Linked DNA regions of Homo sapiens: regions 1 and 3 are each linked to region 2. Evidence: fine-mapped expression QTL. A gene starts in region 2. Each other region holds a variant in brackets. All regions are shown on one strand. Distances are between the middles of the regions.

Region 1 (10,310 bases), 33 kb before region 2:
GTCTTAGTCCTCTCTCCACCCCTCTGCAGCTACTCAATTCAGGTTTGGGGAGTGAACATTTCCTCCATGCCTCATTCAAGGACAAATCAGGAGAAACAATAATTACCTACTCCAGGTTCTCTATCTTCTTTTGGCTTAACAATACAAAAGCTTAAACATAAATAAAGGGAAATGGTCTGGAAAAATAAAAACCAGTTGGCATGGAACTATTGGCATCTCAGTGCGGCATAAGAAGTAGAAATGCTGTTTTTCAGAAACAGCACAGCCGTGAGTTTCCTAACATTTGGCACAGGTTTTTCAATTGTTTGGATGTGATGGACGATGTTGATAGAAGTGGTGGAGACCAAACACAGGCTATTAATAGACCAAACATGGCACTTGTATAATTCTTTCTCTCTCTCACTAGCTCTCTGGCACCAGACTGCTGCCAACCTGCCTACCTTTTACTTTGAGGTGCCATGAATTCCAGCAATGGGGCACGACACGAGCCCCACTGCCTGCCCATGTCCAAGCATGTTCATCTGAGAGCCTGGAGGAAGGCTGGAAGCCACACACCAACGTGGGCCACCAGCCTGTACAGGGCTTCAAGGAAACTGCAAGATGCAAAGACTCCTTGGGTGCTGGTCCTGCCTATCACGGGGCATGCAGTAGAGTCTCCCAAGTAGACTATCCATGGTCTAGGGGGGGTCAGGGAACCTCCCAATTCCTCCATGTGGTTATTTCCTCCATTTCTTTCTCCAAGAACATGAGGCAGCCCCATCTCAAGGCGGGAGCTCATTCCACACTAATTGATTCAAGTTAGAGCCATTTCAAGGCAGAAGGATCTCCATGGTTCCCCTACAGGTGTTGCCTCTAGGAACTCTCCACAGATTCAAACTCTACAAGGACTTACTGAGTACCTGTTATATGACAGGCTCTGAGTCTACCCATCCATCTTCATATAAACTCTCACTTAATCCTCACAGGAAGGAACTGTCCCCACTTGACAAATGAGAAACTGAGGCACGGAATGATTATACAATTTGCCAAGATCACACAGCTGAACTGTGGGAGCCAGACTTGAAACACACAGCTTCTGATTCCAAGCCCAGGATTGGTAAGGACCGCAGCACAGTCCCGGCTGAGACCTACACCCTGAGCTCTTCACGGAGGAGGTCGCTTGTTCCTGCTCCACTGAAGCCAGATTTGCTACTTCTTTCCCCCTGAGCTGCACTTGTTTCCACATCCCCAGAACTCCCGGTCCTGACCAGCTGTCCTCTACCTGCATGGGGTCAGCCACCGAGGAAGCCAGGCCAAAGACTAGAGCTGGACCGTTTGACACCATCACCATCTTTAACATCTATTCAATGAGACTAAAAAATCCTTTCTTCCTTCCAGGGTTGTTGTGAGGAAGAGCAGATAATGAACGTGAAAATACTCTCCCAGTCGAGGGTTCCCACGGGCTTAAAACAGCCTATGCAGAGGGTGGCGATACATTCGGGTTTACCCAGGAGAGTCCAGTGTATGCCTGTTATCTGGCATAATTATTACTATGAATGGTAATCATTAATATAATAATCTCAAAAGTGTCCCAGTTTAGACAATGAATCATATGATCACCCTATATATGTAGTATTTGCTGCCAAAGGGTCTGAGAGAATTGGGGCCCCCTTCCCGCCCTCTGCCCCCACACCTGCCAGCTTCCACACCCACTATGTGCACTCCATTAGCAGACACTTTGCCAGGCTCATGGGCAGACATCATTCTGCTGGATCAAAGCAATTGTTAGTAGACAGTATTTTTAGCAAGGTGGTGTCACAGTGCCTGGATTAATTGCAATTAATTATATGTCACTCCTTTAAGGTTTATTTCATCAATTATGGACAATCACGGCCATGTGCCTTGCTTGCTTTAACCCTTGGTGACTTGAATTTCTTGGCACAGAGGAGGCTGTAACCATGGAAAAGGCTGAATATCAGAATATATTTGCTACTGAGTCACTGTGTCCTGGATGTCAGTTTAGGGCTTTCCTGTTTACAAAGCATTTTCTTGCACAGTTTCCTATTTGATGCTGGGAGGTAGAGAGGACCACTCCTAACCCACAGATGGAAAAACTAAGGCTGGGAGGATTTAAGCAATTACCCAAAGCCATACAGTTAGGAAACCCCACTCTTCTAACACAGGGTTGCCAAAACATTTCCAAGTCTTCTGTATAGACTGATGAGTGTGACCCTCTGGCATCAGTGGTCAGATAGCCCCATGGCCAGGCATGGGGACAGGATCTGAGGGCGTCTGGAGGCAGACTTGCCAGGGAGGAGCCAAAGGCACCTGACGCATGTCTGCCAGGCAGAGCAGCCCTTACCTTGAGCATTTCAAGTGGCCCTAATGTCAAGAAACTCCAAGAAGAATGTGTCCGTGCCAGAAAAATATGCAAACAAGGACACCCAGCACCTTCCTTCTTTGAGTGTTGAGCAGCCGGAAGAGCAGCCAGAAGGTACCTCGTACAAGTGAGGAGATGGTAGGACTCCCACAGTACCCCTGGGTCCCTCTTGCTGTTGTAATAGGAGGAGCCAGAGGAACACCCCACCTGATACTCGACTGGCCTTAATTTGGGCTCCTGCCCCCCGTCTATTTTGCCCTGCACCGGTTACAGAATATTAGTTCTAAACAGATCTCTGAGCTCCCCTAGTCCAAAGCCTCGTTTTACAGATGGAGAGACTGAGACCCCAAGCAGGGAATGCCCCATCTCCGACCCCACTTGCCAGGGCAGAGCTGAGCAGGGACGTGGGCCTCCCCTCCTGTGGGTTCTTGCTGACTGTGGCTGGGAGTCTCAGCTGGGAACTGGGGTGCTGTCTGGAGCGTTTCTCTCACGGGAAAGTTTGCTGCGTCTTTTCTTCCATCCCTCTTTCTTACCTCCACCCTTGTCTCACTCTCCTCACCCACATTTCATCCCTCTCGCACTATTCCTGTTTTCCGGGACCAGGCTTTAAGATTGTCAGCTAAAGGGGCTAGGTCTGAAGGAAACTCGGCTGGAGCCCGAGAGCCGCCGCCCCTGGGCTCCCTCTGAGTGGCCCCTCCAGGCTCAGGGCTGCTTCATGGCACAGTCGGGGTCCTTTCTGTCTCTCTGCTCCATCACCTCACAGAGGACTTGGCACACAGTAGGCACTCAATAAATACTTGATGAATGAATGAAGGGATGCTACCCTATGGCCTGTTCCCAAGAAGAGGAGAATCGTGCAAAATCACTTCCCTGCAGGCCCCATCATCTAGGTGGGGAACAACACTTCCAATTGTGGGGAGAACTCCATCAACTTTTGTTTCCTCGTTCCACTGACTAAACAGATACTTATTTGCTTAGAACCCATTGTTTAAGCCTTTTTTTTTTTTTGAGACAGAGTCTTGCTCTGTTGCTGGGCTGGAGTGCAGTGGCACAATCTCAGCTCACTGCAATCTCTGCCTCCCAGATTCAAGCAATTCCCCTGCCTCAGCCTCCTGAATAGCTGGGATTACAGGCGCACGCCACCACCATGCCCGGCTAGTTTTTTGTTTGTTTGTTTGTTTTTCATTTTTTGTGTTTTTCTTTTTTTTGCATTTTAGTAGAAACAGAGTTTGACCATGTTGGCCAGGATGGTCTCGATCTCCTGAGCTCGTAATCCACCCGCCTCGGCCTCCCAATGTGCTGGGATTACAGGCATGAGCCACCGCGCCCAGCCTATCTACATGTAACAGCTGTGATCAAAGACCTAGGAAAACAGCCAACCCAGCCAACTCCTCCTCCTGGTTCCTCACCCTGGAGGAGCTCTGGGCCCGAGAGCACAGAAGCTAGGAAGGCAGCAGAACGAGTGATGCTTATGGGGGAAAACCTGGCTTTCCACCCACAGCTGTTTCAAGGCGTCCTGCAGAAGTGGGTCTGGGGGTCCCTGGGCAGGAAGAGCCAGTCTGGGGCTCCCAGGCATCCACTGCCGGTGATGACACACTGAGCTATCAAAGCTTGGGTCAGAGCAAAGGAAAAAGCTCACACCAGCCAAATGCACAGACATCTCACAGATGTCACGGGCTACCAGGTGGCAACCCCGAAGCAGCTGCCTCTTGTCACGTGGGGGCCAGGTGGGTGGGGATTTTGGCCCAAGGGGGTGAACTGTCTCACTGAAGAGACACAGCTGGGCCCAGCCAGGGCTGTGTGCCGTGGGGAGCCAGGTGTGCTGAGGTCAGCGGGGAGGAAGGCGCTCTCGCAGGGCTGGAAGAGGAGAAGCCAGGCAGGCCTGAATTACGAGGGCAGGAGTGCACATGCTTCCTGGAGGACTCACCCCTCTCCCTCCAGCTGCCACCAGCTGCTGACCACGGTGGGACAGCCAGCTGACAGGGGTCAGGCGGCCAGAGGTGGATGGACAAGTACAGAACAGAGAGTGTGGGGGCCAAACAGGAAGGCGGCCACGGGTGTGGAGAACGTCAGGGCTAAGACAGACCTTAGAGTCTTTGCATCTTACAGGTCAGGACCCTGAGGCCTCGACTTGGCCAAAGTCACCCAGCTGCTAGATCCAGATCTAGAATTTAGAGCTAGAGCCTAGCTCCTTCCCCTACTCCCGGGCTCCTTCTGCTATACCATGTAGATTCCATAGCAAGTAATTTAAGACACAAATCGTGCCATCCCACTCCTTAAATCCCTTCTGCGGCTCCCCACAGCCTCTGGGATGAAGGCAGACCCCCTAAGCAAGGCATGATCTGACCCCTGCCTGCCTCTACAGCCCCATATCTCATACTCACACCATAAATTCTAGCCATACCGAGTTGCTCACACTCCTTCAAAATGCACTAAGCTTTCGTTTCCCTCAACCTTTCCATGTGCTTGCTGGGCCGGGAACAACCTCCCTGCCTTAGCCTTTCCCGTTCCCAGTCAACCTTCAGGACCGGCTCCGTTCTCGCCACTCCCACCACCCTACCCTCCAGAGCTGCCTCCGCCTCTGCGCTTCCTCCACCCTGTCCCTTCAGGCCTCTTCGGGAGACAATTCTAAGTGCGTTGAGCATCTGCTTACCAGGCTGTGAGCTCTTTGAGTGTGGGAACCAAGTCTTTGTCATCTTTCTGTTTCTCCCCCACCCCCAGCACCTTGCACAGTGCCTGGAATGTGAGAAAAACTCCATTAATGTTTGTGGAATTAATTATCAAATTAAGGAGTGAATGAAGCCTGGGCAGCTTTGACAGTACCTTGTTTCTCCCGAAGCTACTTTACCTACAGAAGGGCCAGTGCCACTCAGGACATCTCTAACCGCTGATCTGCCTTCTGCTCTCCCTCCCTCCCCATGTTGGAGGGCAGTCGGGTCACTCCATGGGAAAAACAGCAACTGAGATACAGGGGACCCAAGTAACACCCCCAGTTGTGGTGCTGACACAGGTCGCTGTGTAGCGATGGCAAAGCAGCTGAGATGGTGACTGAGTTCACTTATCCATGAAATGAGTGCATAACCACGTGCCCACCACCATCGAGTGACCTGCGATCTGCAGACCTCAGGAAGCAGGGCGCAGTTGTGCTCCCTCCACCCCCATCACTGCTCCAAGGCTCTGCGTACCTACACCAGAAGGGGAACAGATCCCATAGCCCAAAGGAGCACTGAGCCTCCAGGAGACCCTTTGGAGGCTCTGGTAATGTGATTTTAGAGACCATCTGTCTTCCAAATTCTGTTTTCCCTGTACAAAATACAAACAAGATACGACACCTGATTTACATCCCCTAAGCACCACCAGCTGATAGGGAGGAAAGGTCCCCATGCAGTGAGACAGCAGCAGGGACGAACGTGACCTGGGTTTGGAAAAGACACTACAGGCAATCCACAAAGTGGATAATCCACACCTGGCTGACGAAGGTTTGGCCCAGGCACAGAGAGTGCTCCACAGTGAGTGAGGGTTGCTGGACTCAGACCCCCGCTCAGCTCTCACTCGACAAGGCTGAGGACCTCGCCTGGGGCAGACTCGGCCACAGAGCATCTGAGCCTTTCTAAAGCAGTCCTCAGCCACCCCCAAGAGCCCTTCTGGGGGCCCTGGCCACTGGCCACTGGTGGAAGTGTTTTGAATGATGGAG[C/T]GCAGAGACAAACACAGACGGGACAAGGTGCCAGGAGCCACATACCAGAGCTGCTTCTCAGAGCTGCAAATGGCTCTCAGATGACACCCCAGCTGCTAGCTCCTTGCCAGGGGCAGGGTGGGCAGAGAGGCCTGCAGAGCAGGGGCTAGGTCACAGAGCTGGGGGGAGGGGCACAGGGAGTCAGGGATTTCTAAGACTCAGACTGGGAACCTAGCAGGAAAGGCACTGGAAATTGTACTTACTCCATTTGGTTTGTCTATTTGTCTCTTGCAATTTATCTAGTATTTCCTAAAAGGTCACTGGGTGGTGATTTCAATAATGTAAAATTTGTAGAGATGCTCTAAAAGAAATGTACAAATTTCACAGGTTTACACTGGCTTAAAAGCAATATATTTTATTAAAAGTGTCTATTCTAAGTGCACTTTGGATAGGATTTGGAGACTGATTGGTTAGAGATTCAAAAGGCCTTGTGCTATTAAAAGATCCACTGTGTTTTTGGGGTGGTAAAAAGAAATAGAAATCAAAGCATTTGCAAAGGTATGGTTGGTGGATGGAGAAAAAGCGGCGTGTGAGATCACAAAATCCTTTGTCACCTCACAGTCCCCGAAGCAGGGAGCTGGGAAAGAAAGATGCTTATTACAAGCAGAGGGCCAGGTTTCCTGCGAAGGCTTCCGTGTCCCAAAATCTCACAAGCCGCTTCTCACTTTCCTCTCACCGCTCCTCATTAACTGAAGCCAATCCTTGTCATTCAAAGGAAAATAAACAGGGAGCAACTGCCTGCAGAGACAAAGAGTCCTCATATCGGGACAAAACGGCTTCTCCAAGCAGACACCTTTTCCCTCAGCCCCAGTCAGAATTCTCTATTTCTTTCCAAACAGCAGAGCCATTTCCTTCCTGTCAGCCCAGTGATGCACAACTTCCTGTCAGGACAGCTGAGGAATCTGGAGAAATGTGTCTTCCCTCACAGCCTCTGCTCAGGTTTGCAGGGCCTCAGACAGTACCAGGGAGCAGAGTGGAGAGCTCCAAAGAAGCAGCCCCTCCCACGCCTCTGCCCCCACCAACGCCCTCCCCGGATCCCCCAGGTCAGGCCACCGAATCCAGACTGAGTGTGTGCACCGCACCCTGCCATCTTAGGCTTCTGTCTCCCAGAAGCCTTTGTGGGAACCAGCATTTCCATTCCCAAAGCCACCAGGTGGAGACCAGGGGCAGGCCTGCCCCTGCGGGGTCAGGCCCCGACCTAATCAGGACCCTGGGGCCTGTCAGAAAGACTGAGGCCTGCCCTAGGGCTGCAGAGATGGTGAGGGCGCAAGGGAGGGTCTTTTCCGGGTAAAGATGGGCCGCTGACAGCCCCCTTAGGTCAGCACTCTGGCAAACCCACTGTGGTATAAAAATAAAAACCTCAGTCCCACAGACTCCACATTAAATGGAGTGAGAGGCAGGGAGATGAACACTGAAATAATCACCTCCATTTAGTAAGCGCTCTCCACGTGTCTGCATTCTTCCTTTAATCCCCAACAAACCCTGGGACAGTGGTTCCCAAACTTTGCGGCACATTAGTATCACCCAGGGAGCTTTTTAAAATCCCCACACCCAGGTTGCACCTCAGGGCAGTGACATCAGGTCAGAAGCTGGGAGCCAGGCATCAGCATTTTTTTAAAGATCCCCAGGGGATTCCAAAATGAAGCCAAGTTAGGGGACCACTGAGCAAGGCACTGTTCGTACCTGTTTTATTAATAAGGAGATTGAAACTCAGAGAGGTTAAGTCGCTTGCCTAAAGCCACACAGCTTCTAAGCAATAGAATTAGGCTTCTGGTTCATGCCTGTTATTCCATCACAGAGCCCCCCTCACTCCAAACTTTCTGCAGAAAGTTGTTCAGCTCTATCTACCAGGTATTGTCTCCCTACTACATCCCCATCCCCGAATGAGAGCACCTGCAGACATCTTTGCTTGCTAGCAGGAGTAAGGATGAGATGTGCGAGCCGAAGGGGCTGTGCAGGGCTGGGGAGAGCGGGCTGAGTGTGTGCAGATGGCCTATTGGGAGGTCATGGGATCGGCAGGTTCTGCTCCTTCCTCATCTGACAATGCCATTTAAGTTCTCTCCAGAGCAAAGCCTTGGCCTGGCCTAAGAGGATGGCCAGGTGTGAAGGAAACGCACGCGAGAGTGTAGCCACGTGGGTGAGCGAGGGCACGACAGAGGTGGTGAGGATGGCACACAGCCTGGAGAGGGCGAGCCCAGGGTAAGGGGTGAGGGGAGACCCCCGGGAGTGCTCCAAACCAGAACCTTGGGGGATTGACCCACTTCTTGCTGCCTGTGTGACTTGCAGCAAATCACTTCCAGTCACTGGGCCTCAGATCCCCTCTTTGCCCTGCAATGGGGTGGGACCCTATGGTCCAGAGGGTTCTCCCACCCTGGCCTCCACAGTGATCATGGCGGCCCCCTTCTTGGGTGTGAGCAGGTGCGGGTGTGGGAGCAGCTGTGGCCTCATCCCAGGCAGGGTCCACACACAGTTCAGGCACCCACAGAGCCCTGGCTCTCAGAGCTGTCTGGCCAAGACAGGGAGGCCAGTGCACCTATTGAACATACAGGCCGAGGAGAGGGGCCCTGGGGCAGCACCCCACACTTGACCTTCCTGAGTGTCCCAGCCATGACCTCCTGAGCTTCACATCACCTGGTCGCACCCCAAAAGTGGGGCAGAAGGGGGCTATAAGCAACTGGGATTTAAAGCCCCTACCCCTCACCCCAGCCCACTGACCTGCAGCCTCCACTGGCTGCTTCCCTAAGTGCCAGACAGAATCTGGTTTCCCTCCTGTGGCTCATTCAGGGACCCCCCCCCCGCCACCACCTCCTCTGTGAGCTTTCCCCGGCCCTCCCTGACATAATTAAATGCTCAGTGCTACTTCTGTGCCTGGTTCCAACCTCTCCCCTTGCATATATTACACTACACTGTGCTCACCATCTGTTTACACTGCTGTTACCATCAGGGCCTCAAGGGAAGAGTCCGGTTTGACTCAACAGAGGCAGCAAAGCATCACGGTCTGCAGAAGGGGCTTTGGAGTCCGAAGACCTCACTTAGAGCCCCACTTTGCCACTTCCTCGCCATGTGACCAAGCCTCAACTTACTCATCTATAAAATGGGGCAGTAAGAGTAGTGACCTCATAAAGTTGTCATACACATTACATGAGATGACACGTGTAAATAAGTGGCTTAGCGAAGGACCTGACACTTATAATAGGAGCTCAATAAATGACAGCTATGAGTGCCTTCATATCTCTGACACCTAGGGCCTAGCACAAGCCCAGCCCATAGACATAGATGCTGAAGAAGTATGTTGAAATAAGCTGAACCCCAGCCTGTTTGTAGCCTTGACGGTCTGCTTGGCCTCTCCAGGAGCTAGATATGGTCCCTGCCCCTCCCACCTCCCAACCAGGGCTGGCTCCCTGCATCCATCCACCCTGCAGAACAGTTCCCCTCCCCAGAACAAGAAGCTGCCCCATCCAGGTTCTAGACAAAAAAGCCAGCTGCCTGGCTCTCCACAGCTGGTTCCCAGCGTCCCTTCAGCTTGAGAGCCCACATCCCCGGGCTTCCAGGCAGCACCCACTGAGCTCAAGCCTCAAGTATCCTCAGTCCCAGCCTCAGCCCTCATCAAATATTTTTTTTAATAGAGATGGGGTCTGGCTATGTTGTCCTGGCCTCAAGCAAGTCTCCCACCTCGGCCTCCCAAAGTGCAGGGATTACAAGTGTGAGCCACTGCGCCCGGCCCCTCATCAAATCTGAAGTCCCAAGGTTAGCGAGTATGCAGGGAGGCTGGGAGAGAAAAGCAAGAGGCCCCTTACAGCAGAGGCTGAAACCTTTTAAAGCAACAGTGAGAAACGCTGAGAGAGAAACCAGGCGGGGTAGGTGGGGAGTTCTCTCCCGGAGACTCCTTCTCACCCTTGCTTCCCACAGAACCCAAGAAAAAGGCACTTGGCAATAGTTACAATTCCAGACGGCACTTAACGAAGTCCAATGCCTCAGCAAGACAGACGTTTGGAGAAATAATGACCCAGGGGACTTTCAGGGAAGGCTGTCTGGACATGGAGGGGCGGCTGTGAGATTTAATGAAGCCAGTTCTACACAAGAGTCCAGCACAGGGTGCGGTGCCCCTGCCTCGGTGACTGCCCCGAAAGTAGGAGGGGGGGCTGCACAGCCAGGCCACAAAGGGCAGACACCAGGCCAGCAGGGGAAGGCCAAAGAACACACCCTCGGGACCAGCAG
Region 2 (10,102 bases):
GGTCTGTGATTCAGAAATGCGGGGAGCCAAGCACCTCAGGTGGCCTCCCCTTTCATTCACCTAAAATCTGCCTTCCGCATCTCTGGGAAAGCCCCTTTCCCTGAGCTCCCCCTCAGGGGTGGCACCTGCCCCAGGCAGGGAAGAGGGCCTGATCCTGCAGAGTGGTGACTCTCCCGTCGCGTTAAGACAAATGTGCATAGATCCCACACTGGGATCTGTGCACAGCCACTGTCTCTGGGAATAGCCGTTTCCTTAAGAACTCTGACTACGGGTGTCACTGAAAGAGAAGGTGCTGGGATTGCCCCTTCCCCACACCCCCCTTGCATTTGGGCCTTCATCAGTTTTCCCCAGTGAGGGCCCCTGGTCTCCAAGGGAGGACTGGAGAGAGCCAGGGCTGTGACCAGGGCAGCTGCCAGTCCTAGCGAGGCTGCCAGCCCCATATCCTGGAGCGCCCAGCAGGAGAGGCGGTTCTGAGAAGGCAGCGAGCAGAAGGACCCGCAGACGCAGAGGCTCATTACAGGGAATGACTAAGTGAGCTGCGCTTCCAAGGGAAACCCCACTCGCTTCTGCTCGCTGAGACGCTCATCCTTGAGCTATTTTGACTAAGGCGGCTTCCAGGTGCTGCCCTCCGCTGGGGCAGCCCACTGAGAGAGCAGCCGGGTTGCTGGAGGACCCTCTGCCTGGAAGTCTTGGTCCTGGCTATTCAGGTCGTCTGACAGGTCTGCCCCACCCGTTTCCAGGGCGGGAAAGTCTGCCCATCACCGATTAAAGTGAGATGCTGGGAATGGGGGAAATCCGATCAGCACCTCCTAGGTTTTTGCGGCTGGATTTCAATAAGGAATGTGACAGTCTCGCAGCAGCTGTGCCCTGCCTGAAACAAGCTCTATTTGAAACCTCCAACAGCTGAACCCCTCCCAGCTACCCGATGGCCAGCCCGCCCAGCCACCCCCCCACCAAGCCACCCCCTGCCCCAAATGACAAATAAATAGAAAAACCCAAGCAACAAGCAGGCGCATGCATACGTACAAACATTACGCACATACACACACACACACCAACAAATTGGGGGTGGGGGTATCGTGGAGCCACTTGTCCACCGATTCCCAGGTCTCCAAGCCTTCCAGCCCACAGCAGGAGAGCTCCCCGGCAAGCAGAGCATCGGCAGAAACCCACCTTCCTCCATCTCCACTCCCTCTGGGAGGGAAACCCCCTCCTCCGTCTTGGGGCTGGACTGAGAGGCTGGAGCAGTGGGGCCAGCTCCCCGCTAAAGCCAGTGCCTGCTGTTCTCCATCCGGGCGCGCACTCACACACACACTCATCTTTATTTATCCCAAGGAGGAGTTGAGGTGGGAGGGGAGAACTGGGGCTGAGCTGGGGCGCGGGCTTGTGGGGACCGCCTGGGAAGCCCTGTCATCCCGTCCCAAGGAGAGGTGCTCCCCCAGCTGATTCCAAGGCGGCGCCCAGCTGCTCTGCCCAGGTAACACCTGTAGCCATTTTTATCAGGAGATGTTTACGAAGCAGCAGCAGGTTTATTCTGAGTCCTCTCTCCTGAGGGAAAGGACCACTGATTTCCTCCACCTATATTTTTACCCCATGCCCTCAGGAGACCCAGGTCATGGATGGTTTTCTATTTTGCCCGAGACTCTCTGAGAAGAGGAGGGAAACAGAAACTTGGGAAGAGATGGAGAAGACAGGGAGAGAAGGGACTTGGGCAATGGTACGGAATCCCCACCCCCCACCCAGACATTTATTTCTTTTTTATCCTCAGGAAAATGGAGTGGAGCAGGGAGGGGAGGAAAGAAGGGGAAGTCGCAGGAACTGGCAAACACATGAAGGCGGAGTGTAATTAATTGGTGCGTTAAGCTGCTGGGTTATGCTTTAGTACGAGTGAGCCAGGAGGAAAAGCGATTTCTCAGAAGGGATTATTGAATCCTCCCTAACAGAGAGTCTGCAAATTAGACACAGTGTGTGGGGATGTCCCCTACCCCCCAGAGGAAGCTAGGAATGAATTCTCCCGGGATCAAGAAGGAAAACCACGGGAAGTTAGAGTGTTGAATATAACTGAGCAAGCGCCTCTCACCACCACCACCACCTCTCTCTCCCAGTCTCCCTCCCAATCTCTCAATCTCTCTCTCTCTCTCTCTCTCTCTCTCTCTCTCTCAATCTCTCTCTCTCACAATCCCCCTCTCTCAATCCCTCTCTTGCTACCTACATATTCCTTTTGTTCAAGGTATAAAGAGAAACCACAGCCCCTACCTTTGAGTACAAACCCCAAGAGAGCTCGGTCTCTATCACCATAACAACAATTCCAAACATCCCAAAAATCAGAGCATAGTCACTCAGTCGCTTTCTCTTTTCAAACAGGGCCCTCCTGTGTCCCAGCTTATAGCCAATGTTTTGGTTTTTCCGCTTGTTGGCTTTGGGGAAGGTGGTGCTGCTGGCGGTGGTGCCGGCATGCTGGTGGTTGTGGGTGGCATTAGGGTGATGGAGCAGGGTCTGGTGGGCATGGTTGTCCTCCCGGGAGGAGATGACGATCTCCGGGGGGTTGCTAGGGCTGAAAAGCTGGAGGGGTTGGCCCTCAGTCTCGGCCTCGATGAGGTTCCTCCGGGAGGCGCTGAGGCGGCTGAGGGGCTTCATGACCCCACCGCTATACTTGCAGGAGCTCATGGCGATCTCCGTGAAGGGGTTGCTGTCCCGCCGGTGCACCAGGGGGCTGGCCTGTCGGTGCCGGCTGCCTCCGCCAGGCCCACTTGTAGCTGTGGAACTTGGAGAGTGGCCAAGCAAGTGGTCATTGAGATTGAGCTGGCTGCCTTGCCTGGAGGAAGGGTGGAGGATGGCGGTGGAGTTGGACGAAGGGGGGGCCCTGAAAGCGGTGGGAGAGGAGTGCAGCAGGCCAGGGTGGACGGGCTGGCTCTGGAGTTGGGCGAGCTGAGACAGGGGATGCGGTGGCTGCTGCTGCTGCTGCTGCTGCTGCTGCTGCTGCTGCTGCTGAAGCTGCGGAGGCTGAGGCTGCAGCGAGGGTCCCAGGGGCTGCTGGGGGGCTGCTGGTGGCGCTGGCGGTGGTGGCTGCTGCTGCTGTTGCTGCTGCTGCTGCTGCTGCTGCTCATCCCCAGAGGATGGACAGGGGCACTTGGGGTCTTCATCCAAGTCCCCCACCCCCGAGTCATGGAAGTGCCCAGAAGTGTCCATCTTGGGGCCTGGCTGTATTCCCTGCAGCACAAGCCCCCACCCCAAAGCCACCCTCGCTCCAAAGATGTCCTCAAAGAAAGCCAGGCATCCAATCTCCCCCACCAGTATCTTGGCTCCAGTCCTCTCTTTGGCTTGCTTCGGTTCTCTGGGGCTGCCTGGAGTCCAGACGCTGCCACTCAAGAATGCATTGTATTGGGCAGGGAGGGAGAGCAGGAGGGGAGCTTGGAGAAAGAAGAGGGGGTGAAAGAACTCTCTCAGGAGGTGGTCCTCTAGGAGCGTGTGAGGCCAGGCTCAGCTTCACTCCTCGCTGGCTCAATAGCTTCGCTCGCCTCCTCCTGCCACTGTTACATTGTAAGCCAAGCCCACTTATTAGCAGCTGGTCTCATTGGCTTGGCTTAACTCTCCAACCTCCTCCTAGCTCCGCCCCCCGCATAGGCTCCTCCCCAGAGGAGGGGCCTGGCGTCCTGGGCTCCGGCCCCAGTGGCGGCGCAGCGAGGACTGGGAACTGTAGTTTTTGCTCCCCCACCCCGGAGCTGAGCCGCTGTCCTCTTTCCTCTGACAGGTATGGCCACAACCCTTAAGCCCACGGCGATAAGGGATGTTCGCTCACGCTGGGCGATGGGGAGGAGGGACAGAGGGCCTCCGAAGGAGGGGAGGTGTGCACCCTGATGAGGGGGCAGACGGAGGGGAAGGCAAACATTTATTAACCACCAGGGTTTACGATAGGTTGTTTCACATATATTATCCGGATACAGTCTCCAAACACCCAAGGAGGTGGGCAGTATGGTCTCATTTACAAAGCCTGATGCTTAGAGGTGTTGAGTAACAACGTCAAGGTCACAGAAGCAGGGGGGATCCACACCTTCTAACACCCGGTGGATAAACTCACCTACCATTGACTGAGTGCCTACGCCTCGTGTTCAGGGTCCTCTCTGTTATTTCCAACCCTCACATCAACCCCACAAAAATGATGTCATCACTCTCCTTTTACAGATGAAAATTGGAAGAAGAAGAAGAAGAAGGAGAAGGAGAAGAAGGAGAGAAAGGAAAGTGGAAAAAACACTCAAACGCTCAAACATAGATATGTAACTTGTCAGATGTCATCCCGCTTGTAATTAAAGATGCTGGGATTTGAACTTAGTCAGTCTGACCCCACAGATCAGATACTTTCTCCCAGGATGCATTTCCACTATGATATTCAGTACAAAGTGGTTGTTCAATAAATATTGTTCAAATGTTAGTTGGGGAAAACAAAAGAGAAGCTGCTGAGGAAGAACTGGCCTCTCCAAAGCAGGGTGTGTGAAGTGGACCATGGCTCCAGCCCCTTCCCTAACAGCTGGGTGTGTAGTCACAGGGGGATCTGGCAGGAAGACTGAAGATTCCCCCATGGTCATTCCCTGCCTGATTTGCCCCATGGGGCTCTGAGAGTCAGAACTAGGAACAGCTGCTGGCTTCCCAGGTTCAGAACCATCATCATCAAGTATTTATTAAGCCCCCACTGTGTGCAGAGGGGGTTCCAAAGGATGGGACCAGAGCTGAATTCATTTTCATTTCTAACCACAGCAGCCTTAGGAATCAGAAAGGAAGTCACCATGAGGGAATTCCCCAGAACACCTGGGGTTTTAAAAGGCAGGCCTCTTCCTCTCTGGCTCTTGATTCCCCATCACCCTTTGGCCTCTGTCCAGCTCCCTCCCTCGATGGGAAGAGGAAAGGGTAGGAGATCCATGCACACATACACAGACACACATCCAGAAAACATGTAAGCAGGTGGACATATGTGCACATGTGTACATGGTTGTGTGCACACACTAGCCCATGCATGCACACATGCACACATATACACATAGGAAGCTCCTAAAACAGCATTCCTGACTGGTAAGCAGCAAGTGTCCAGATCAGGGAGGGACAGAGCCCCCCCAAAATGAGCCCAGAGTCCCCTCTGTATATCAGTTCTCACCTCTCCAATCCCCCATTAACCCTGATGATTGAGAGCTAAATATTACTTGTAATACAAGCCACGACCCCAGATACGTGACAATTACTCTTGCACAATAATCTTGATTCTGGCCAGGCATGGTGGCTCATGCCTATAATCCCAGCACTTTGGGAGCCCAAGGCAGGAGGGTTGATTGAAGTCAGGAGTTCGAGACCAGCCTGGACAACATAGCAAGACCCAGACTCTACAAAATTTTTTAAATTAGCTGGACATGGTGGCGAGTGCCTGTAGTCCAGCTACCCAGGAGGCTGAGGGAGGAGGACTGCTTGAGCCCAAGAGTTTGAGGCTGCAGTGAGCTGTGATAGCGCCACTGCACTTCAACCTGGGCGACAGAGTGTTACCCTGTCTCTAAATATATATATATATAAAATAATAATCTTGATATCAATGACATAATCATTTCCCCTACCCCTGCCAACACACACACACACACACACACACACACACACACACACACACACACACACACTAGAAGTCACAGTACCAGGCCTCAGATGCAAGCCTGGGGTCTCATGTGTTTTCCCATGACCAAGCCCTCTAGAACCCACCCCCAACCCCTTCAGCATCCTCTGCCTTCCCTGCCCTTCCCTTCTGTATTCTTGATTTCCCTCCCTCTCCTCCATCCGCAGACAGAGCCACCTGCTTGGTTCAAGGCTCCAGATCGCATACTTAGGTTTAATGATCCTCTAATAAATTATCATGAATATGTTGTTAGTAGCAAAAATGTGCTGTTCGTGTTGGTTTTTTAGTGTTGGATACAGTTTTCTGGGCTGTGAAAAATCAATTTTGGAGAACAGGCTCCAGGCCTGGGTATTCCTATGCTCACTCTACCCCCATGAGCTGCCTTCTGCCTCAGCTAACCTTTCTGGCCAGCCTCTTGCCTCCAGTTCTTCTGGCTGTGCCAATGGGATCCAAATGGGGCCTATCAGAGCACGTCCTGCCATCATGGATAAGGATGAAAGATAGCTTGGGTAGAGCCCTAACTATGCCAGCACCAAAGATCAGTGGTTATCTGGAAATGGGCTGGAACTTGACAGCTGATGCCACGGAGCCAGCTCATGCCCCTTGTTACAGCTATCCTGTCATGAACAGGAGGAGGAGGACAATGTCATGTTTAGAGCTTGGGCTCAAGTGTCAGACTGCCCAGGCTGGAACCGTTCTCTGCTGCAGGGATGGCTGTGTGACCACAGGCAAGATGACCTTCTGATCATCCATACACATCTCTTCCTAACTCCACAGTGATGTCACATTAGCAGCTTGAAATCAGCCATGATCAGAGTATTTACACCACAGAAATCGGCTAACACTGTAAATTAGAGCTTATGTTTTCCTGGAAGCCGCTTGCTAAATCTTTCCTGGCTGTTCAACATTTATCAGCATATTACTGCCTCCTATATCATTACATACAGGCTGTGCGCTCCACCCTCTGCCTTCCTTCTCACCAGCACAAGCTTTGCCACTCGCCCACTTTGTGACCAGTTGCTTATGTTCTCAGGCCTTCAATTTCCTTAGTCCAATGAGAGCACCGGCCAAGTACTTTGTAACTGTCAAGCACCGACAGGTTAGTGAATCAGCTGGGAGCTCTCAACCACAGGGCCTGATCATGTCAGGTTTTCCACGTTGCCCTCCAGATGCACCGCACTCAGGCGTCTTCCCGCTGTTGCTGCCTGTCCAAAGCCCCACTGTTGAAAAGCCCCCAATGCTTCCCTTGGCCCCCAGCCACAACCATGTCTTCACAGCAGCCTGTGAGTTGAGGCCATCACCCATTTTATAGATGAAAAAACTGAGGCATTAAAAAGATTTTAAAACTTGCCCAGAGTTACTAATTAGTAACTAGCCATAAAGCTGGAATCAAACCCAGGCCTGTCCAACCTTTTGACAAACCCTCGCCATATGTCCTGAAACCCAAATTTAAAGGATTCATTCTTACTGGTGTTTATTAAACATTACCATGTGACTCACACACCCAACCCTCAGGAACTTAAAGTCTCACTGTAGAGACAAGTTATACTTACATGGGGTGACAAAAAACAGCAATGCAGATCCCAAAGTGTGGGCGAGACAGTAGAGTTCATTGAAGGCAGAGGGTTGTCAAGGGTGGCTTCCTGGAGGTGGTGGGACTTAAGCCACACCTTAAGGAATGGGGAGCAACTCCTTATGCTGCCCTAAGATGACAGGCTGACAAATTAGGCCTCTTTAGTCTGCAAACGGGGGTGTGGAGGAGCTTCTTACCTCAGAGAGACAGGAAGAGCAGACAAGGAAAGTAGGGGTGGCCTTTGGCCATACTGGCTCCACATCAAGTGTACTGGCACTCGGTTTCTGCCCTCCTTTCCAGGCTCATTCCTCACCACCTTCCTCCTTAAGCCCCAGCATCACCGACCTATTGTAGCTCTCCCGTAAGTCATGCTATTTCACATCTCCATGCCCTCTGCCTGGCATGCCCTTCCCCCAGATTTCCATCTAACACATTTCTCTTTGCCTTTCAAGACATGGCTCAAAGGTCTTCTTTCTGAGAAGCTTCCCCTGAACTCCCCAAACCCAAATCAGGAGCTCCTTCTGTATTTTCAGTGCCCTGTGCTAACAGGGCCTCTACGGAGCAACACAGCTGTTATCTCCATATGTGTCCTTTGCCCATAGACCATGACCTCCTTGAGGGCAGGGATGATGTCTTCTTCACAGCTGTACTGCAGCTCTTCCGAAGAGCCGCTTACAATAGATGCTTAGTAAAGATTAATCGAACTGACTAAACTTGAAACCTGGATGAGGTCATTTGAAGGCAAGTAAGGGAAAGTCACAGTACTTTTCACAACAAATCATAAACACAATTTCCTCATCCGTAAAATAGTGAGATAAAAAAGATGATTTCTAAGATCACTCAGCTTTAAAATTCCATAATCTATTGTCTGTAGACCTTGTTATCCCCAAAAGGTAGAACTAACTGAAAATAGGTTTAAGAAAAGTAGTGGTTCATGGTTTATATGGCTGTCTTTCCCACAGGCTGTGACCTGCATAAAAGGGCTCTAAATTTTTTCAGTATCCCCAACACTGATCACGGTGCCTGGCTATGAATTACTCATTAAAGATTTATTGGTCGGACCTGGTGGCTCACGCCTGTAATCCCAGCACTTTGGGAGGCCGATCACAAGGTCAAGAGTTCAAGACCAGCCTGGCCAACATGGTGAAACCCCGTCTCTACTAAAAAAAAACATACAAAAATTAGCTGGGCGTGGTGGCGAGCGCCTGTAATCCCAGCTACTCAGGAGGCTGAGGCAGGAGAATTGCTTGAACCCAGGAGGCGGAGGTTGCAATGAGCCAAGACCATACCACTGCACTCCAGCCTAGGCAACAGAGCAAGACTCCATCACAAAAAAAAAAAAAGATTTATTAGACAGATGGATAGTAGGATGGATGGACAGATGGACGTGTGGATGGGTGGATAGGTGGGTGGATGGATGGATGGATGAACGGACGGATGAATGGGAGGATAGATGGGTGGATGTATGGATGTATGGATGATGGATGGATGGATGGAGGGAGTTTAGACACAAATGACAGATAATGGCAGGTTTTCTAGAAAAGCCAGTGGTGTTGGAGGGATACCCTTAACCTGGTAAGGATAGGGTCATAAAGATTAACCACCCCCTTTCTCAGACTCTGAATGGTTGGACAGCTTTAGGCTGAACAGCTCATTAGCCCATGTGGGTTCAGTCATTACTGTGTTCTTATCTAGGAGCTTCATTACTGGATTAATTAATGCTCCAATAATAAAAACAAATCCTGTGTTTGCAGAGCACTTTATAGTTTTCCAACTGCTTTTATGTAAAATATTTCATTTGCAACTCTTGGCAGCCCTGGAAGGCTGGCTGGGGAGGTTCTATTGCCTCATCGTTGCCACTCTTACTCCCATGAACTAGAGTTTAGAAAGGTTTCAGTAGTTTGCTCAAGGTCACCAGTTAGGCATGGATTTGAACCTGGGTCTGTCTGTGCTCTTTCCCATCCATTCTGCCTGGAAAGCCCTTCCAGCCCACCTCTTGCTCTGTGTCCTGTCCTGTGAGAATTTAGGGAGCAGCACAAGTGCCACCCCTGCCCAGAGCTTTCCCTGACCTCCCCTCCTCTCCTCCCTCAATTTGACATTATCTCCCTCTTCCGAATTCCCTTGGCACTTTATTGTATCTCTCTGGGGACACTGTTCACCTCTTGCTTTGTACTGGTGTTGTCTATAGATATATGTCTTCTCTCCCCTGATTTTATCATATATATATACAGAGAGAGAGAGAGAGAATCTGTTGCCCAGGCTGGAGTGCAGTGACGCGATCTCAGTCTTGGCTCACTGCAACCTCCGCCTCCCAGGTTCAAGCGATTCTCATGCCTCAGCCTCCCGGGCAGCTGGGATTGCAGGCGCCCGCCACCACGCCTGGCTAATTTCCCTGATTTTAATTGACACCATAAGCTCCTTGGTGACAGGAGCTTATGGTATAAATTGGAAAACACACACACACACAAAACACTGCACTTCACGCTGCACCCAAATTGTGTGTTGAATACATAAGCAGGTAAGAGGGTGAGTGAGTTTAGCCTGACTGAGAGTTTGGGCACTTTGACCCAGGACACATTACTTGCCCCTTACTTGCCCGGCTGGCCACCAGGAATGCCAACTGGTAAGTGTAGGCCTTCTGTCCACACTTCTTTCCTGAGAGTCCCTGGATGTCTAGACCCTGGGTGAAGCCTCTTATAATGAATGCCCACCTAACCCCTGCCCCTGCAAGCCATGATCTGAGGAGCAAGGTAGGACTACAGCATGTCACCTGTCCCCTGGCCACGCACCAACAACTCTCAGCCACCTATGGGTGCCAAGGAGTCTTCAGCTTCACACAGGCTCCTCCCCATACTCTGCTTTGCTAAAGAAAAACTGGAGCT
Region 3 (10,310 bases), 55 kb before region 2:
AGTCTCAACTTGGACCCAGGTCTACGGACCGCAGGCTCAGTGTCTCTCCCACCATCATGCTAACAGGACAGGTTTGTATGGGAGATGCCTTTGGAGGAAACAAAACTGCTCAATTGAATTGCATCGAATTCTTTAATTCAAAGGTAAATCGGGGCAGTTCATCTCTTTTCCTCGTCCAATTGTTGGGTTTTGGAGAATTTGAGCAGTGGTGATTTTGCCATTTTTTCTCTTAAAAACAGGAAAATGTCATTTTACTAGATTTGTACTCAACAGGAAACTAGAATTATCAGAATTTTCTTGATAGCACAATGCAACAACACTTGTATAGAAGCCTCCAAACACTAAAGATTCAACAGTGCCTTCCAACTTTACAAATTCTCAGAGAGTCAATGATCCTTACCCCAGGAGTCACTGAGTCCTACTATGCACAGTGCTCTTCGTTAGGCACAGCAGGGGTGGCTGCAGGGATGATTGGGAAGACGCTGGCCTCCCTGAGCTTAATTGAGTGCCATGTTTCTTAATAAGAGTGTGCACTGGCCCCCCTGCGGTGCTGTCAAAACACACATTCCCAGGCAGTGGGGTTCACCTGCCTATGCAGGACCCAGATATGACACGGGGGATCTGAGGCACACCCCTGATTGAGAACCGCTGCCACGGGGGAAATGATCATCATTGAAAAATGGTAACAACAAAACCAAATAGAACGGATTAACTTTGAAAAAGTCAGGGATGACACACCTTGGCACTCTCAGAGAAACAGAATATTCTTTTTTTTTCTTTTTTTTTATACTTTAAGTTTTAGGGTACATGTGCACAACGTGCAGGTTTGTTACATATGTATACATGTGCCATGTTGGTGTGCTGCACCCATTAACTCGTCATTTACATTAGGTATATCTCCTAACGCTATCCCTCCCCCATCCCCCCACCCCACAACAGGCCCCGGTGTGTGATGTTCCCCTTCCTGTGTCCATGTGTTCTCATTGTTCAATCCCACCTGTGAGTGAGAACATGCGGTGTTTGGTTTTTTGTCCTTGCGATAGTTTGCTGAGAATGATGGAGAAACAGAATATTCTATTAAGCTGAGCACTTGTTCCCCATGACTTTGGAGAAGTGGGAGTGCGCGTTCATGGAAGGAGTTTGGAATGGATTGTTAAGGCAGGGGACTTGGCCACTTACTCTATTATCCTGAAAACTTTAAGCTGTCTGACCAGCTCCTGTGTGTAAGAGACTCAAGAGGAGTCACCTTTAAACTTTAAGATGTTGGAGCCAAAGAGCTGTCTTTATTATTGTTTTCTATGTCAAGTTTGAGGCTGTGTTTAGGGGACAGCCAGCTCTGTGACTGGGCAGAGGCAAGGCTATTAAGAGAAGGGACAGAAGTTGTTCGGACAGTCCCACAAAGGGCCTCCTGAACACAAACCAGGTCAGTCATTGTTACCAAAAACCGCTCACAGCCACTCTCCCGACATTTTCCTCTCCTTGTCAGGCAGTGCCCCTCAGACATGGAATTCTGGCTACAATCAGAGTTCTCAGAGATCCTCTGGCCTAATCTGCCCACTTTACAGACAACACAACTGAGATTGAGCTAGAACAAGTAGCTTGTCCAAGCTCACAAGTGATCAGCATCCCAGACAAACTGGCCCTGGCCTCTCGTCCCATGTAGAATGGGCAGAGGGTTGCTGGGGTGGGAGCCCCTTGGGCAGGGCAGTTGTTAGGCTGCTTTTTTTTTTTTTTTTTTTTTTTGAACATTTTCATTCTCTCAGCTGCCCATGCTGGGACTGTGATTTTTTGTATCCTGAGTTACACTGGAAGCTTCCTGAGAAGCGTGTCCACGGCCCCCTCACTTCACATGGCCTAGGGCGAGGACAAGTGTGTGGTTTCCAAGGTAACACATAGCTGGGTGGATTCAGCCTCCCGGGCCGCCTCCTCTTCCTGGGAGGCTTCATCTTAAGCCCGCAGGGGAGGAGGCGTGGGAGGCCAGGCGACGCACCGCCTTCCCATTCACAAACACGGACTCTTCCCGAAACCAGTCTCCCCTCTGTCCTCCTGCCAGGGTTCAAGGGCAGATGACCCCTCCCCACCCCGTCCTGAACTCCTGGAGCTAAGGAAGCTCCTGGAGGACTTGGCAAGAGGCGTTTGCCTGGAAGTCAACAGAACCCCAGCTGACGGGGAGGTCAAGCCTTAACATGCCCGGAGCAGGGCTTTTCACACCTGTTAATGGACACAGCACCACCCAGTGAGAGCATGATCCAGGATGACATTCCCCAGAGACAAAACAGAAAGTCAATACAGGCAGCCGAGAAACAAGCCTTGCTGCCACCACGAGCACACCCACCCCATCGGAGACGCCAGCCAGGGCCAGGGAGAGCAGCCGGGGGCCCTCACACCTGAGGGACAGGGAGCAGGGGCAGGAAAGCCCCCTCTGAGGCAGAAAGGGTTAAGCCCAAGTGTTTAAATGTTTAGCAAATAAAACCAAAATGTCACACAGAGACTGCCAGGGCTGGTGTAGTAACCATGGCAATCCATGGCCAGCGGCCGATCCAAGTGAAAAGGTGCTGGGATCGAGGTGGGCCTCCCAGAGAGTGGCAGGGAGGGCCATGGTGGGCATGGCCAGCTCACTGGGCAACCTGCTGGGACCCGCAGCCCCTTAGGATGCAGAAAGCACGGGCCAGATGCCAGGTCTGTGGGCTTCAGGTCAGGCTCTCAGCCTGTTAGAGGCTCTACTTTCTCCTTAGAATGAGGAGGGAGTAAATCTGCCATGCCTACCCCAGTTTTGTCATTCATTCATTCATTTATTCAGCCTACACTCATTGAATAGCACCTACTATGTGCTAGGCACTCTCATGCCTTTGGGGGTCCAACAGTGAAACCAATACAGTCCCCACTGCCATGGAGCCCACAGTCAGAGAAGGGAGTTGCAGGCAAGAAATAGTATTCACAACCAACATAAGACACGCAGGGACAAGTAAGAGCCGCTGCTATAAGAGCTGGTGCTAGGTCCACTCCTAGAAGGGGCACCCTGGGGTCAGGGAAGGGGGACGATGGCCAGAGAGAGTTCCTGGAGGAGGAAATATCTATGCTGAAACCTAAAAGGCAAAAAGGTGAAGGCGGCCAGGCCCAAGGCCTCATAGATGTGAAAACCCTCTAAAAAATACAAAGCGCTAGACAAGATGTGGCCACACCATCGTCTCTGAGGCGCTTGCTAATGTATCAGCTCTGAGCTTTCTGTCTTCAAAGTGTAGTCTGACGAGGATTTATTCCATGGTGTTCTGACTTCTCGGGCCCAGTTGGTGGTGTAGCTCCTCTCTCTATTTCTCCCTTTCTTTCTAGCCCCACTGTGCACAGCTGGGCCAGGCAGGAGGCCGAGGCCCAAAGAAGAGCAGCGCTCCAGTGAATCCCCATCACCAGTCGCTGTTCTCTGGAACACATTCCCCATTTTCAATTTCCCTTGTGTGCTGTGATCATCCAGGGGCACACTCATGAAAGTGGGACAGGAGAGGGATGTAAACCTGGCAGAGGAGGCCCCCATCTGGAATTTCCTTGTCAAGGTCTCCTCCCCTTCAGTACGAGTGGCCCGAGCTCCCTCCTTCCATCTGCTCATCACACCTGAGTTAAGGAGCTGACATGCTCAAACCTAGCCAGGCTGAGAAGTCTGTCTGGGGGTCTCAAGATCTCGGAGGTTCAATGAAGGTATTTCTAATTCATCAACCAACCAGCCAGAGACACCCTTAGGAAACCTCTACCAGGTGTCTGAAGAAGGATGGGGACTCTAGCCCCTACCTGGGGGGTTTGGGCAGCCTCCACCTCCCTTCGGAGGACAGGCACAGCTTCCTTCTCTTTTTTTTTCCTCTCCTGAAACGCTCTGGGCCAGCTTTGTCCTGAGCATACAAGGTCTCTGCTCCTGGCGAATGCAGGGCACAGCATCATCTCCGCGTGAAACCTGCCCAGCCTCTCTGGGAGAAATGCATCACTCCCTCCTCCGTGGCCACTTGGTGTTTCACAGACCCTCATATTATGGCACTTATGACCCTGGGTCACAGTGGATAAAGGTCTAGGACAAACCAATTTCCAAAGGCAGGAATCAGGTCTGCTTTATTTCTGGATTCTCAATGCCTAGCACAAAGTAGTCCTACAATAAATGTTTGTTGAATAAGTAAACGAATGAATGGACTCACCATTTTTATAGACTGTACTAGGGTTGGAAAATTTAGAGAGGTCAGTACGTGCTCTGCTATTATACCTTGTCTCTCAGTGCCAGGACACCTTACAGGTTACATTCAGGATGTGACTTGAGCCTGCTTTCTTTTACAGGGAGAAGGGAGGGTGAGGGCACAGAGCAAGACGCAACGTGAGTTGTCCTGTCTGTTCTTTCAGGGGAAGACACCACTAACTCATTTAGCGGTGGGACCCCAAAGCACCTGGGCCAGCAACACCTCCTGCATTACAGACACCCATGTCCCTGTGACAGCACATTACACGCACCCAGGAGGACACTCCCATCCACAGAGCAATTATGCCACAGGAAGTGAGGCTTCCTATAATTTATGTCCTGTAATTTCAAGTAATTTCCCTGTCTGCTCAGAACTCTATTGGTATTTAATGAAAATATCCACTTTTATATACCTAATAAATTAAAAGCCTCCCCTTTTTTTGGTCCCTTGTATTTCAAATTCATGAGGTTGAAGGCCCATAGTTTGTTACTACCGTTACGTTTCTGTTGAGTTTGAAAAAGACTGGAAACATCTGAGACCAACGCTAGATCTTGAGGGGATTGATATCCCCAGGCAAGAGTGGATCTCCACCCCATTGATCTGATTGATGCCTTTTACTTTGAATATGGCCAAGAACCACAATTTGAAATTAATGATCTCTGAAGCTCCCATTCTGGGACTGGATTATATGAACTCTGCCACTGCTCTGTATCCCATCCTGGGTCACAGTAGTCTCTTCAGTTTAATTCAATAAACATTCACTGACTACCTGCTACGTGCCCGGCATTGGCCTGGATGTAGGGACGGCACCTCCCATCCCTGCAACTTTATTAAGGATGCCAGGCTCTGCTCCACGCCTC[C/T]GGATGTGAATGTGTCTGCACCCCACCCCTTATTCCATGCCTGGGGCTCTGAGCCAGGCACTTCCTCCCAGGGGTACTGGATCCCTCCCATCCTCCCTTCCTCACTCCTGCCCCAGCTCTGGGCATCAACACCCCTCACCTGGCCCATGATGACGTGCTTCCCACTGTCCTCCTGCCTCTGAAATTGGCCTTTCCTATATTTGCATGCTGCAGATGAAGAGTGCTGTCTAAAATGTAAATCTGATCATCTCTGTCCCCAGCTTGAAACCTTCTCATAGTTTCTGCTGCTGCCTACAGGACATTCCAAAACCCTTCAGCAAGGCAAACAAGTCCCTACGGGTCCTTCCCACCCTCCATAGTGAACTTGCCCCTCTACCCAGGACCCTGTCCTTGAGACATTCCCAGTGTGCTCTGCAGTTCCCCATCTCAGAGCCTTTGTTTACTCTGAGACCTCTGTCTGGGGTATCCTTTCCACTCTGTCAGCCAGACAAACACATTCTTACTTAAGCTAAGGAGTTCTGCATATATTATCTAATTTAATCTGTACAATAACCCTTTCTGGTAGGTACTGGTTCCGGGTGGGTAGGCATATTCAAACCTACCCCCAAAGGCTGAGGAAGCTGAAAGGCTGAAGAAAGGGGCTGACATATCCAGTTTCTCAGAAAGAAGCATTTAATAGGGACTTATGAACAAAAGCCACAGTCTCTGGCAGCAGTAAGACAAGATGGTGGATCCTGCACCACGACCCCCTAGTCCCAGGGATTAAATACCAGAGGAAAGGGGTATATGTGCTTCAGAAGCAATTTGCCTAAGGGCAGGACTTACAGTAAACAGTAGATAAAGGAGAAATCTTAGAGGCTTTCCCGAAACTGGGTTAATCGGAAGTCAATATGGAGGATCAGCATCCAAGATGGAGTTGCTGTGGCCTCCACAGTATGGTTATTAGTCCTATTTTACAGAAAGGAAATAGACTAAGAAGGATTAAGTAACTTGCTAAAGGCCACCTACACACTAAATGTGACAAACAGCATGATTTGCGCCAAGCTGGGCTGCTCTGAAGTCTACATTCTCAGTAGAGAACGTTCCTCAAGCCTGGGTCATAACTGAGTTTTATGATTCTGCCTGCTAGCCTGCCTTCCAGGATGGCACCAGGGCCATTCATTAGAGCCATAGATTCACTCAAGGCTGATGACCCCTGGGAGAAGCAATGGTGAATTCTGAGTTTCTCATCTAGAGAACTGGGCTCCTGTCCTGGGCTCTGCACCTAGAAGAACATTATTAAATAGATGCTGAACCAATGACTGCACTTGGTGGGTCATCAAGGGCAAAGGAGGAGAGGATACTGGGGAGCAAGAGGAGTTCAGTGTTTTGTGTGTGGAGCCAGGGGCTGCCGGTGGCATGTAAAACGTGAGCCTGCAGCCTGGGGAGGGGATTAGCACGGTCTGAGAGCTGTTGGTGAGAGCTAAACCACAGAAGTAAATGGACTCTCCAAGGGAGAGCATGGTTTTCAGTCAGAGTTTTGGTAAATAAACAAAATGCATTGCTTCTTGTGTTTTCATTTCTCTCCCGGACACACTGGCCTGAGGAAAAGAGGTGCCTGAGTCTTTGAAAGGTCCGTGCTCCAAAACGCCAACAGAGAGGGAGACTGAGGAGAGATGGGGTGGGGTGCCATCTTCCAACAATGGAGGCTACCATGCGGGAAACCAACCCCTTCTTTTCCCTGCTCCAGAAGCAGAACCAGGCCAGGGGGCAAGTTCCAGGGAGGCTGCCTCTTCTCGGCAGAAGGGCGGGCTTTCTAAAGACATTGGTAGGGCAGCCTCTCCCAGGGGGGCCAGCAGCTCCGTCACAGTAGCACACACAGAGGCCCTGGGGTTCCTGCACTAGGTGGACACTACAGTTTAAACGTGTCCCCTCCAAAATTCAGATGTTGCCAATGTGGTAGTGCCAAGAGATGGGGCCTTTCAGAGATGTTGAGGCCATGAGGGCTCCTCCCTTGTGAATGGGATTGAGGCCTGTATCAAAGAGGCCCCATGCAGTGTTCAGTCCCTCAGCCTCCTGCCTTCCCTGCCTGAGGATGCAGCAACGTAGCGCCGTCTTGGAAGCAGAGAGCAGCCCTCACCAGACAACTGAAGCTGCTGGCACCCTAATCTTGGACTTCCCGATCTCCAGAACTGTGAGAAATACATTTATGTTCCTTATAAATTACCCAGCTTGGGTGAGAGTTACCCAACAGTGTTTTAGAATTCTTCTTCCTGAAAAACTCAAGCCATCTAAATGAACAAGTAAGAATACTGTTCTAAAAGGTACTCCCCCAGCCTCACATGTGTGCTGGGCAGGGCCTGGGTCCTGGGTGTGAGCTTCTGGGGCAAGGCTGGGGAAGACGGGGACATGATCATCTGGTCCCTGCTAAAATTTAGCTAGGTGATCAGGAACCACTGTGGATGAGGAAAGCTGTGAGCAGATTCCTAGCAAAGGTCCTGACATCACCCAAAGGGGAGATGCGGCAGCCACCCCCTGCCCTGCCTGCTTCGCAACAGGTGAGCAGCAGCTGGCCTTTGCCTGTGGAAGGGTGCTTGCTAAGCACTCCCCTCTGCATAACTTCATCAGTCACACTTGGGATAACTCCTTCCTCCACTCGCAGGAAGCAGGTTCCGCAGCTGGCTGAGCAGCCAGATCTAAATCAGAGAATTACAAGATTGGGGGGCTAAGTAATAGATGAGGAAACTGAGGCCCGAGACCAAAAAGCTAAGTCAAGGTACGACCAGCTTTGGAAAAGAGTTACCTTGAACTCAGCATGCTTTCCATTCAAAGAACGTGCTACAAACGTGCTATACTCTGCCGAGAAGAGTATACTGTCAGACACTATAAGTCTCTGGACATGCAAAGATTAATGCAAAGATAACTGTCCCTGAGGTAGGGAAGAAAGACACCCAACAGAAAACTACAATATGGCCCAGTGCGGTATATACAAGGGCGCTCCGTAGGAACCTCCCTCCCACTGACTCTCTGGGCCCAAACTGTTCCCATTTCCCTCTGGCAAGAGAAGGTCTAGCTGGGCACAGAAAGAACTTTACTGGAAAGGTAAGAGGCACAGAGGAAGCCGGTTTTGGTGACTTTCCTCAAGTGACGGAGGCTGCAGGGAGGATAAGGGGCTGGGTGGTGGGAGCTCAGGGTACAGGCAGGGCTGGGCCAGAGCAGGAGGAAGCCCAGCCACCTGCCAGTACCAGGCAGTCGTGATAGTGACCACCTGGTGGACCCAGCTGGTAAGTGCAAGGCCCAGCTAGAAGCAGTGGGACAAAGGTCACAGGAAAGGGACCAAAGTTTCCATTCTGTGAAAGCCCACTCTGTACTCTACACTGTTTCCAACCCCTGCAAGAGTTCAGCAAAGTGGGTGATGTGGTTCCCATACTTCAGATGGGGAAACTGAGCCCCAGAGTCAGGATTCAACACAACTGATTTCACTTTGTTTCTCCAAATTGTGTCAGGCCAAAATGAATGACCCCCAATAGCATCATCTACTGCCCATGATTAGGGCTGAAACAGAGATTGGCCATGAGCTGGACATGGGACAATGGGTACCCAGCCAGGTTCTGGGCTGTCAGCAACATGACCCTGCCACCAGGCCGGAACTGAGTCAAGCTGCAGCTGGACCAGAACAGGCTGAGAGCTAGGGCTGCAGGCCCTGGACTGGGAACAAGGACCTCAGGAGCATCAGAGGGAGGGACACCTGGCTCTACCCACCCCAATGCCTGGAGCAGAAAGAGGAAGTAATCAGGCCTAGCACCACCAAAGTGTGGGGTTGAGGCTGAGAACAGCTCCTCTTCTTCCCCTTCCTCAAGCCTGGGTCATAACTGAGTTTTATGGTTCTGCCTTTTTTCTTTGTTGTGTGTGACACCTCCCCACACAGGTCAGGGTGACACATAGTAATACAGTCTCCCTACAGATGAGAACATGAACACTGAGGGACTGCCTGGATCCCGCGGCTGGCTTTGGGTGGGGTGGAACCAGGCCCGGAGCCCAGACTGTCAACTTCTGTCCTGTCTCGATTCCGTGGCCCTAGTCCTCCCTGCCTGTACTCCTGGCTCCTTTCTGGGGCTGACTGGACAATGGTCTGAGTTAAAGTCCACCACTCTGTCCAATTCAGACTCCATGAAGGAAGCTGCCTGGTGGCATCTGGCACAGGCACAGCCCCTGTCCAAGCATCTGCAACCCTTTAGAGGCTGAAGAGTCCCAGCATCCAGGTCAGTATCCTCTAGTCATTGACAGAATGCAGCCCTGCCAAGGTGGCCTGGAGCCAAGGCTTCCATGTCCCAGCCAGCCACAGTGGCCCCTGACCTTCAGACAAAAAGCCAAGGCTCTCTAAGAGGAGGAGGCACTCCCACCTGCGTCCGCACTGCTGCTCCACCCTGAAAATGCCGAGTAACAAATGGGACTGGATTTGAACGGTGTTGTTAAATAGCGCTTCACAAAGCACTCTCCCATGCGCTCCTCATCCCATCCTCACAACAGCTCAGCAGAGCTGGAATAAAGGCCCCATGTTCTAGATGAGAAGATCGAGACCCAGGAAGGTCACAGGGCTGGCCAAAGACACACCAAGAAAAAAGGTCATGGCCGAGACTTGACCCCAGTTTTTCTGACTCTGAGCTCTGGTCTTCGTCAATCTCTCGCCTGCTGCCCAGATGTGAATCTATCTGTGCTCCTCCAGCCAAAGGACCGGGATGGTTTCCAGATTCACATGCACATGAGGAAAAACATCTGGATAGTTTAGAACTTCTCAGGTCCACAGCAGTGCAGGTCAGCCTGAAGGGCCGGGGGCTGGGGGAAGCTCATTGTCACCAGAAGATGCTTCAGATCTGTTCTCTCCTGTCTGACCCTCCTGGCCCGGGTTGAACCATCCTCCCTATGTCAGCCAAACTGGAAGTGCACCCTGGAGGCCCAGCCAATGTTTCTCTGGGTACCAAGTCACTCCTGGGCAGCAAGAAACAGAGGCCTTCTCGGCCACAGCAGACTCTTACTCTGTCTAGAAAATGACACCCCCAGCCTAGACCCACAAGGGTGAAGACCACACCATTCACAAAAAGCAGACTCCTTGGTGGAGTTTGGTGCAGCATATGTGGGGGTACACAAGGCAGGTCTGCCTCACTGAAGGGATGAACTGAGTGGCCCAAGTTCAGAAAGGACAAGAGACACAAAAGGCAGAGCAATGCATCAGGGGCTCTCCCGGTCCGATGGTGCTCAG

Alleles and levels. Alleles are on the strand shown, and positions count from the first base shown. SD is a standard deviation of normalised expression in the study named. Not every link is listed here.
With allele C in place of T in region 3, the expression in sun-exposed skin of the gene that starts at base 3,506 in region 2 is higher (small effect, 0.19 SD a copy in GTEx).

Evidence for each region. PIP is the estimated chance that this variant, and not a neighbour inherited with it, causes the effect.
Region 1: its variant is fine-mapped to the expression of KCNN3 in lung (TOPMed, PIP 0.96).
Region 3: its variant is fine-mapped to the expression of KCNN3 in sun-exposed skin (GTEx, PIP 0.91).

The regions. Positions count from the first base shown.
Region 1 is chr1:154,833,751-154,844,060 of GRCh38, forward strand. All of the region lies in intron 1 of KCNN3 (potassium calcium-activated channel subfamily N member 3), which reads right to left. Among named protein-coding and RNA genes, the nearest start is that of KCNN3, 31 kb to the right of the region's middle. RefSeq lists enhancers at 6,627-7,128, 6,783-7,077. The variant C/T (reference allele first, on the strand shown) is at 6,054.
Region 2 is chr1:154,866,776-154,876,877 of GRCh38, forward strand. KCNN3 (potassium calcium-activated channel subfamily N member 3) reads right to left here and starts at 3,506. Exons shown (of 8, transcript NM_002249.6): 1 at 2,257-3,506. The coding sequence starts at 3,189. RefSeq lists enhancers at 1,330-1,849, 3,257-4,213, 3,286-3,375.
Region 3 is chr1:154,811,489-154,821,798 of GRCh38, forward strand. The region is part of intron 2 of KCNN3 (potassium calcium-activated channel subfamily N member 3); the gene reads right to left. Among named protein-coding and RNA genes, the nearest start is that of KCNN3, 54 kb to the right of the region's middle. RefSeq lists enhancers at 1,427-2,086, 2,087-2,744. The variant C/T (reference allele first, on the strand shown) is at 5,072.